3 linked regions of the Homo sapiens genome follow. The protein of the gene in region 2 interacts with the protein of the main gene of each other region in a biochemical or structural test. Each region holds a gene or a part of one and is shown on either strand. Other genes may lie near its edges. The genes, in order: LDB3, IGSF5 and PDZD2.

Region 1 (3,655 bases), on a different chromosome or scaffold from region 2:
TTCAGGTCATTCAGTTAACTTCAGAGCTGGGAAGGGCATTCACTAGTACAAGAACCCAAGACGTTTCTTTTCTTTCTTTCTTTTTTTTTTCAGATGGAGTCTTACTGTGTTGCCCAGGCTGGAGTGCAACGGCAGTATCTCAGCTCACTGCAACCTCTGCCTCCCGGGTTCAAGCGATTCTTCAACCTCAGCCTCCCGAGTAGCTGGGATTACAGACGCCCGCCATCATGCTCGGCTAATTTTCGTATTTTTGTAGAGATGGGGTTTCACCATTTTGGCCAGGCTGGTCTTGAACTCCTGACCTCAGGTGATTCGCCTGCCTTGGCCTCTCAAAGTGCTGGGATTACAGGCGTGAGCCACCGCGCCCAGCCAAAACGTTTATTTTCTAATTTACAGTCAGGGGAAAGAAGTTTTATTTTGTTTTGCTTTTTCCCTTGAGGAACTGAATGTTTTCTCCTTTCTGATTTTAAAGTAAACTAACTTACTGTGTTTCTCTTTTTGCCCTCAAATTTGCTACCCAGTTAGTCCCTGCAGCTCTGTTATTCTTCATAATCAGCATGCCTGCTTTTCCCGCCTCTGATTTTCTGGTTCTACTGTCTTAGCCTTCATGTCTGTGTTACCTTTTCTGGAACCTGCTTCAAATCCTTTCTGAAGGGGGAAGCCTCTGAATAAATGAGTGACTGACTTCCACCTATCTAATGAAGTGCTTTGTCTCTTGAATTTACAATAATTTACTTAGCATTTTAAGATAACATATAGCATTTTGGGGGTACAGAGAAACTCTGAATTCACTCCGTGAGATTACAGGAATCTGCAGGAACATCAAAGTCTGATAAATATCACAGGGGCAGAGGAAGGGGTCTCGCATATTTGATGCTCTACACGCCTTCTCTGGTTTAATCCTCACCACAGCTCTGTAAGGCAGGTGTTTACAGACGAGGAAAGTAAGGCTCAGAGAAGGTTAGTAACTTGCTCAGGTTTACAAAGCAGCCCAAAGTGGAACCAGGAATAGAATGAAGGACAAAGTCCACAGCCAAGGCCTTTTCAGACTAGACCTTGTGGTCTCCAAATCAAAATAACCTGAAAGGTTTCCCAGTGGTCATAAGATGCCAACTTGTGATCTACATTTTTTTTTTTTTTTGAGATACAGGATCTTACTCTGTTGCCTAGGCTGAATACAGTGGTGCTATCACAGGTTACTGCAGCCTCGAACTCCTGGACTCAAGCGACCCTCCCACTTCAGCCTCCTGCGTAGCTGAGACTACAGGCACGCGCCACCACACCTGGCTAATGTTTATATTTTTTGTAGAGACTGGGTCTTGCTATGTTGCTGGTGTCAAACTCCTGGGCTCAAGCAATTCTTCTGTCTCGGCCTCCCAAAGTGCTGGGATTAAGGTGTGAGCCACCTCACCTAACCAGATCCACATATTTGATGCATAAAATAAGCTATAGACTCTGCACCTCACTCTCCCCAAAGCTGCAACCATATGGGCAGGGGAGATAGTTAACTTCCTTTGTGTGATATTAGCATGATTCTGCCATTAAAAGCAAAAACAAAGGTTTCTTCCAGAAATAAAGGCCTCTGGGTGGTCGGATGTGAATGGATTAGGCAGGAGTTAGTTCCCTGTGCCTGCCCCTTTCTCCCAGGCTGTGGGGCCTCCCCACATGCCATCGAAGTGTTCCTACCTTTCTCGCAGTAGGGCTCCCCGTCTTCCATGTGGAAGAGGCTGTTCCCAAAAGGCTTCTTGCAGGCCGCACAGACGAAGCAGGTGGTGTGCCATGTCTGTCTCAAGGCATGCATTACTTCCTGGGGGAAAGAGCCTAAGCTCAGGACAGAAAGGAGAGAGGGAGCGGGCTTGACTACCCCACCAGGCTCCAGCCACTGCCCGAGCATCCTACCAGGGAACAGGGCAGGAGATCTCAGGATGCAGGCCTTGGTCACTCTGAAGAAAGACCCAGGGGTGTCAGAGAAGGGGTTGTCACTCTCCAGCTGGGTGCCAGGTTCTGTGCTTTCTTACATAAACTGTGAGGCTTAATCCTCCCATTAAACCTGGGAGGAGGTACTGCTTATTACTGTCATTTACCAAAGGGGCATTGAGGGTTAAGGCCACATTCTGGTGAGTGGTAAGGTCAGGCTGTGAAGCAACCACTTGCTTTGCAGAAGTTCCACCACCACTTCAAGCTGTGTGGAACAGGCACACAATCATCTCTTGCATCAAGTTCATTTATCCCCAAGTTTATTGGTGGCAAACCAATTCCCTTTTAGGATAAAAATGGAGTTGCTTTCTCTGTTACCAGCAACTTCTTGGCTTCCTAATGGGATCCCACGATCTTGGGGAAGGGCTGGGGAAGAGACATGGGTCAGAGGAAATGGAGGCCTCCCACTTACCCCCATAATTTTGGTGTTGCACTTGGCACACAGCGGGGCAAAGAATTGCTCATAACATCGCTCACAGTAAACGTTGTTCTGCTCTTCCACAAAGCACACATCTGCCAGGGAAGTCTTGCAGTAGGCACAGGTGAACTCTTCAGGGTGCCAAGAACGGCCCATGGCTACCAGAAATGGGCCCCTGGGGAAGCACAGAATGGCACCCAGTAAGGCAGCTCCCAGAACTTGGAATTAGATATTTGAAGAACCCCAACACTGTTTATACTTTTACCCAATAACTCTGACTTTTGTGACTGTTCTGATGAAGTAATGTGAAATTCAGAGAAAGCTCCATGCAGAAAGGTGTTCATTGTTGCATCACTTACAATAAAGAAAATCAGGAAGCAACTCAAACATCTACCAATAGGGGACTGGGTAAACATATTATAGAATTCAGTTGACCACTGATAATGATAGTAAGAAATGCAATAATGATGATGCTGATGGCTAACATTTATTAAGTGATTACTCTGTGTCAGGCTCTATTCAAGAAGACTTTTGCATTTATTAACTTGCTTAATTCTCACAACAATCCTACGCACTAGGTACTATTATAATACCCATTTTTAGATAGGGGAATTGAGGCACACAGAGTTTGAACAACTTGTTTAAGGCCATAGGGCTAGTAAGTGGTAGACCAGGATACAAACTTGTATTGTCTAGTTCCAGGTTAGCAGTCAGAACAGTGGGACTATGAAGACATTTTTTTATATTCTAATTTTTACTTTTCTGTGTTTTCCAATTCTTCACTAATGAGTATGTATTACTTTAGTTTTAAATAAAAGTGTATTTTTCACGTATATAAGCTCACACCACACATGCACACAAACATACTGTATTCAAACAACAGCACCCATGGTCCATGGCTTCTAAGTATGAAATCACTTGTTTTCATTTTAGTCTGGCAGATGCCCACCAACCCCCTGAGCAGCCCAGGCCTGTCTGTGGAAAGACCCAGAAACAACCCTAAAGGAAAACTGGGTCAAAACCAACACTGTCTAACAAAATGCCCTGTAAACCTACTGACAAGCCTGGTGATTCCCAGACCTCAACCTTAGCCCAAGGGGGAGTTCCTGGCACCAGGCATCCTGCTGGAGCTTCACCCACATACCTCATGCCATTCCTCCCAGCTCCCTGGGAGAGTGGGTGTCACACAGGTATGGCAGCTAAGGCTCAGAGAGGTAAGACCAGATGGCAAGCCAGAAGGACCCGAGGCTTTCTCCCTAC
Region 2 (2,855 bases):
GGTAGTGTAAGACTTCTCTACCATTTGTTGGATTAGCAAGCAGGAGTGAGTGATTAGAAACACCATGACAAATTTGCATCTATTACTAAGTATCCGTAAGGAATTCACTAAAATCCTGACATATTTTAAAAGTCAAATTCTGCTTTAGCAATAGCATGGTTGAGCTTGAGGGACTCAAAGCAGTTGCTAATTATAACCAGCATAGAAATCTGCACCAACCAGTTCAGAGTACGGTCAAATCACAGTCTTGCCCCTAGGTTAAATATGAAGGGGTGGAATGGGCAGTTAAATTCACTGACTGTATCTACATGGAAAAAGAAAAATACTGGGGAAAGGCAGCAATTTATTCTTCATAACAACATTCATGTTAACTTTAAATGAAGTGAATGTACAGTCAGCAAAGATAATTGTGAAGATGTGATGGATTTTTGCAGAAGGCTCTTGTTTTCCTTCTCGGAAAAGGCTTGATTCCCGAATACTATGATTCTTTAAATGACCAACTGAATAGTGAAGAGTTAAGAAAGGCAATACACATTTTTGGTGTTTTTATTAATTAAAGACTACAATGCCCATTTCCAGTTTTTTCACGGTGTGCGGAGTAGGTGAGGTCCATCCTCTGCAAAGCATAGGCCACATCTAATTCATTTGAGGAGATGCAAATAGGTCTGATAAAGGGGCAGATAAAAATGAATGCCTTCATGTAAATATTCAATCATAAGATATTTAGGAACGTGCACATCCATGTTAGAATTGAATCTTACTTTAACTGAGCTCAGTTTTGACAGTCAATTGCAGATTTCTGGTTGACCCTAATTTTTATACTCGTATTTCACTGATAATATGTAATAATACCCCTACATATTAAATATACATAAATATCATCTTCATATGCTTTCAGATAATAAAAACTTTTGAAAGGCATGGTAGAATACAGACTTTTATCTACCATTTGTTGGATTAACAAGTAGGAGTGTTGAATGTTGAGAAAAATTATGATGAATTTGCAGCTTTTACTTAGTAACTTCATGGAATTCACAAAAACCATGAAACCTCTTAAAAGTCACATTCTACTTTGAACTCTGGGAAAATCGATTCCTTCTCTCACTGTCAAGTATCAGTTCTGATGACTCCGACATCTCCTCTTCAGGTAATGTTGGCAAAGCTGCAGGCCAGTCTTAGGATGGAAAGGAAGGATGCCATCGCCGTGTTTTGAATTGTCAGCCAAGTGCTCAGTGGAGCTTGGGGAAGGCTTTGCTATACTACAGTTGTATTACTGACCTTCTCAGGACTGGCCAGATTAAAAGAAGCCTGTGGATGACTTGCTGGCCTGGGTGGACGTTGATCAGCCCGCTGGCAACAGAGGAGGAAAAAAGTCAATTTAATGGGTTGAGATCACTGTAAAATGCAAACTTGAAAAGAGAGCTTCACTCATCTGTTAAGATAAAATTAAGGTACGGAGAGGAACAAAAATGTTAAAATAAGCTCTTCCTTTCTTGCATTATTTCTGGTAACACACAATATAGAAGTTTTCCAAGTTCAGGCCCTAAAGGGCAATCCAATTCCAAGAATCAGTATTTGTTTTGACTAAGGCAAATTACCACGACTCATTGTTTTGTTTTGTGTTTCAATTTTCCTAAGGAAGTTCTTGCTTTACTGGCTAGATTTTTTATGAAAATATAAAATATTTCTAAACTTCTTAAAGAGCGTGCATTGTTTCTAGAACAGGGGGACAAAATTGAAGAACTGACTCCAGATAGATCACCCACCTGTCTCTTTTCCCTATCAGGGAGAAACATAGTCTTCCCTGTTCTCATTCAGAAATGTAATCCCAAACAAACCATTTAATCCTCCAGAGTGGCCAATGCCTGTCTCATAATATTGCCTTATTAAAATGTGTGCAACACTTTTTTCCTGCCAGTCCTGAGAATGGCAGCTCAGGTTCCAGGGCACAATAGCTGCACTTAACATCTTAAATAATGTAACTGGGCATGATAAATTATTCACAATGTGATGGAATGCTAGCAAGTCTTGAGGATAGAATTACTCTGGCTCACGCTCTTAATTTGTTGACTCCCAATAACACAGGGAAAACTGGACAGCGGATGGAACTATGTCAGCAGTGCTTTAAGACATGTGCCTTCTGCTGCTAATATGCTAGAGATTCCTACTGTCGTTTGCTTTTGTTTTCACTGCTGGGTTGTGCAAACATCGCTGTTTTCTAAATTTATCAAGTATGTATTTCTGTTTGTCTCAATGAGGGGGTGATTTGTGGGGAAGGCTTGATCCAGGTCTCAAGTTGTTTATATGCCCATCTTCTGAAAATGACAGAGACAGAGAATTTCCTAAAACAGCCAGGAAAATGCACTGACAGTGAGTTAAGGCACAGGACAAAGAGAGGAAAAGGAGGATTCTTTGTTTTAAATATTCGCCAAAATAAAAAACATTTGCAAATCCCCTGGCTTCATATTGAAATAAAAAAGCATGCCTTTCCCAGTAATTGGTTATTTTAGTAGGAATTTCTAATTTTACTTATTACTTTTACCCTAATGTGTTTCAGCTGCAGTTGCACCCAAATTCATTCTGTTTCACCAACAGGGAAACTCTTGTCTAGAAAACCATGTCAGTACTACATATTCTAACTGTAGATTCAGTCATCAGAGAAATAATCAGAGAAGAAAATTGTCATATTGTATATGACAGTTTTGAAAATGAATCTCTTTTTTCCTTCTGACCCTTCTTACAATTTAATCCATGATTGAGATCTCTACAGTCTAGGTTTCTATTTTTTCATTTACGTTGAATGCAATGTGCTTTAGGACCCATCTAAAATATGGAAGGGTTAATTAAGAGTGTCC
Region 3 (3,655 bases), on a different chromosome or scaffold from region 2:
GTGACCCTCCCGTCCAAAATGGCTTGAGAACTGGGCTGGCATGGAGTAGGTCCTGGTCGCTGGCCTTGGGGTGAAGTAGAGATGGTCCTCCCCCGAGGGGCCCCCTGGAATGCTGTTTCTGGGCACCCCTCGGGAGTCTGACATCAGGCTTGATTTTCCCTGGGAGTATTCTGCCTTTCTAATGGCTGTTTGAAGGGAGGAGGAGGAGGACGCCAGTTTTGCCATGCTGAATGATCGTGACATTTCCTGCTCTGCCTGGGAGGCATGAGATGGGAGTGAGGATGGATGACTTGTGGATGATTCTGCGACCTGGCGATAGAGCCTGATTTCACTCTTCTCCTGACAGTTGCCCTGGGCCAAGCACCCTCCCCGTCTGTCGCTTTCAGCTGGCTTGTTACCACATACAGTCTCTGACACTGCTTCAGCAGAAATCTCCACGATTTTCAGCTGGTTTGTTCTTTCGAGGCGATCGCTGGCCATTATGTTGCCTCCTTTTTCGCCAGTCGGCCTGGGTTGGGCTGTGTCTGCTGCCACATGGCTGGCCAGGCGCGGCTCACTCTGTCTGTTCCCTGCCACGGACATGCCGTTCCTAGACGCTGCCGGACTCACCGGCCCGGAGTCAGCACGGGGCGCCCTGCCCTCTGCTCTACACTTAGGAGATTTAGGGGTGGTTGGGCAACCTCTGTCGGGTTCAGAGAGGACAGCCATGTGGAACCTGCTCCACATGCCTTGCTCAGGAACAGGCTTGGGAGAGGTCAGGGGCGAGACAAATGTCCTGATGCTCGTGTCAGACACTGAGGGTTTCAGTGGCCCAGAGGTGGCAAGAGGTGGCTTGCTTTCCAGCACACACTGGGGGGACCTGGGGGCAGCTGTGGTGTTTCTGTCAGGGTCCTCGTGGTCGGCTACATGGAGCCGCTGTGACACTGCCTTAGAAAGTGTTTTGTGGGAGGTCTGGGGTGAGATCAAGGGTTTCCTGTGGTCCGTCCCCCCAGCCTTCACAGCATTCGCAGCAGGGGCCTCAGAGTTGACTTTGGCCTTGCCCTTGAGGCTGAGCCTCTTCAGCTTCGGACCACACTTTGCCTTCTGACCATTAGTCAGAAGCATTTCTGCCGGACTCTTCTTAGACAGGTCCTTATTTTCCAGGTTTGTTTTCGGCTGAGGAGGGCTATGAGGCACAGTAACGCCCTTTTTTTGGCTTGAACTCACCATCTGAATCTTGGAGTCGGGACTTCTGGCAGGCATTAGAGGTTGTTCCTTCTCGGTTTTGCTCCTCAAATGTGTGCCTTGGTTATGTTTATTTATTTCTTTAAACCAGGCCATGATGGGCCTCCTAGCGATCATTTTTGGTTTCTGTAGCAAGTCATCCAGGTCTTGACTTTCAGAGATGTGGAGGTTTTCCAAAACAGATTCTCCATTCTTAGGGACATCCACACTGAAGGAGGACAGACTGGCAGCTGCATTAATGCTTGTTTCGTATTGATTCAGGGTTTCGTCATCTAGCAGGTCATGTTCCAAGCCATTTACCATGTTGGGGGAGCTGAGAATGATGGGCGGACTGTGAAAATGCCTGGCTACTTTAGACAGCGGACTGTTTTCCATGGCTGAGCTAGCGCTGGTGACTTCTGTGGTTTCTTCTGCACACGAGGGCCTGTGGTTCTGTGAAGTGCTTATGTCCGCATGAGTTTCATGCTCCTGAGAGCTCATCTCCAAGAGTGATGATGGCTGGGAAGAGTCTGGGCCTGAAGTGTATGAGCCTGGCAAGCAGGCGGCCTTCTCACGGGGACTGGCCACCGACTCTCTCGGAGTGCTGTATTTTAATGACAGAACTTTGGCTGAGGCAGGACAGATGGCAGCCTGGGTGGGAAGATGAGCAGGACTCGAGGGTGGATTGGGGCAGCCACGTGTGGAACAAATCTCAATCTGTTCCTCTTCTGACTCCGAAGGATCTTCCTTGTGCAAAGACACACGGGAACGAGGAGGGGACCAGCCGTCCCTGGCAGAAGCTCGTGGGGCTTCAGTGAGTGACTCAGGGTCAGAAGAAGAATCCTCAGCATCGCCATACATGGATGACAGAGACGGCTCCGTGCTGTCACCCAGGCCTGATAGGGAGGTGCTGTCTTCATGAAAACTGCTAAAATTTCTAGAGTAGTTGCTCAGAAAGTTTTTGTTCACAGTAAAATGTTTGTCGGGATTAATTGAATCTAAAACCGAAGGCTGGGAGGCCCATTGTGGGTAGGCGGGGGCACCAGCAGCCCAGGCCCTCCTCGGGGAGGAGGTCTGGCCCCCCGGGACTGGTTCGGCACGGCAGGAGCTCCCACCTCCAGCCCCGGCTGGTGGGTGGCCCTGAGCACTGCCCTCCTGAGAGCCACTGTCCCCCGTCTGGGAAGACGGAGACCTTGCTGCAGAAGCATCCAGCTCCTTGATGAAGCTGTCAATGTCCGTCACAGGGCTCTCTCTACTCCCCCCTGGGCAGCAGTGCCCCGAGACATGGCCACATGCTTCTTTGGTGTTGTCAGTGGATGGCAGCATGGAGAGGCTGGCCTGCGGTGCCCTTGAGGACACAGAATCTGCTCCCTCCAGCAGGGAAGGCTCCTGGGAGCTTTCAGGTGCATGGATTCCTGTCATTTCCAGAGCCTTACTGTGGTTACCTGGAGCTCCCTGTCTCTGCTCCTGGGATGTGAGGGGGTCTCCTGGCAGGACAGCACCAGCTGGTGTCATTCCCTCTGCTCCAGGTCCCGCTCCCCTGAGGGCAGCCACCCTCCTGGTATTGTGGGGTGTGCTGGTTTCCGATGCTGATCGAGTCTTGCTGTAGTCAGGGGGAGCCGCTGCTTTCTCCCCCGGGGAGGGGCTGCCCTCATGGGGGAGCCTGACTGGAGACCTGGCCTTGCACTTGGTGACCCTGGGCGATGCAGGCTGGCTGGGATTCTCTGGCCGACTGACTTGCCCTGTGTCTACAGAGGTCTTGCTGGGGTCAGGATGAGCGGCCCCCTTCTTCCCTGGGGAAGAGATGAGGTCTGAGGAGCTGTCCAGTTCTACGTGGGGAACGTAAACAGAAGGTACATACACAGGAGAGGTTGTAGGGGAGATAAAAGGGATAATATAAGAAAGCAGCCCCTCAATTATTAAAAACTAGAAAATTATAAACAACCTCAAATATTTTTTTCTTTTTCAGAAAGCTGGGCGTGGTGGCGCATGCTTGTAATCCCAGCACTTTGGGAGGCGGAGGCGGGTGGATCACCTGAGGTCAGGAGTTCGAGACCAGCCTGGCCAACATGGTGAAACCCCATCTCTACTAAAAAAAAAAAAAAAAAAAAAAAAATTAGCTGGGCATGGGGGTGGGCACCTGTAATCCCAGCTACTTGGGAGGCTGAGGCAGGAGAATTGCTTGAACCTGGGAGGTGGAGGTTGCAGTGAGCCGAGAATGTGCCATTGCACTGCAGCCTGGGCAAAAAGAGCGAAACTCCGTCTCAGAAAACAACAACAACAACAACAACAACAAAACGGCGTTCTGTGGCCTAAATGGAGGCCCTTCTTGTCTTCCTGGTTTTCTCTCTAAAATTATAGAGTACCCACATCTAACAAATACCACCCTGCTTTAGACGCTCTAAGAGAACTCAGATTAGCCGGCAGAAGAAACATTTACATCTGCCCATTT

The links.
Region 1: the proteins of IGSF5 (region 2) and LDB3 interact in a test that uses a peptide from one of them, tested with the Homo sapiens proteins (one large-scale study listed by IntAct).
Region 3: the proteins of IGSF5 (region 2) and PDZD2 interact in a test that uses a peptide from one of them, tested with the Homo sapiens proteins (one large-scale study listed by IntAct).

The regions. Positions count from the first base shown.
Region 1 is NC_000010.11:86,716,879-86,720,533, reverse strand, and holds part of LDB3 (LIM domain-binding protein 3), read right to left. Parts: intron 2,571-3,655; coding exon 2,390-2,570; intron 1,808-2,389; coding exon 1,687-1,807; intron 1-1,686. UniProt on the Homo sapiens protein: May function as an adapter in striated muscle to couple protein kinase C-mediated signaling via its LIM domains to the cytoskeleton.
Region 2 is NC_000021.9:39,799,757-39,802,611, reverse strand, and holds the end of IGSF5 (immunoglobulin superfamily member 5), read right to left. Parts: intron 1,351-2,855; coding exon 1,255-1,350; 3' UTR 531-1,254; downstream 1-530. UniProt on the Homo sapiens protein: Provides, together with MAGI1, an adhesion machinery at tight junctions, which may regulate the permeability of kidney glomerulus and small intestinal epithelial cells. Mediates calcium-independent homophilic cell adhesion.
Region 3 is NC_000005.10:32,086,508-32,090,162, reverse strand, and holds part of PDZD2 (PDZ domain-containing protein 2), read right to left. Parts: intron 3,033-3,655; coding exon 1-3,032.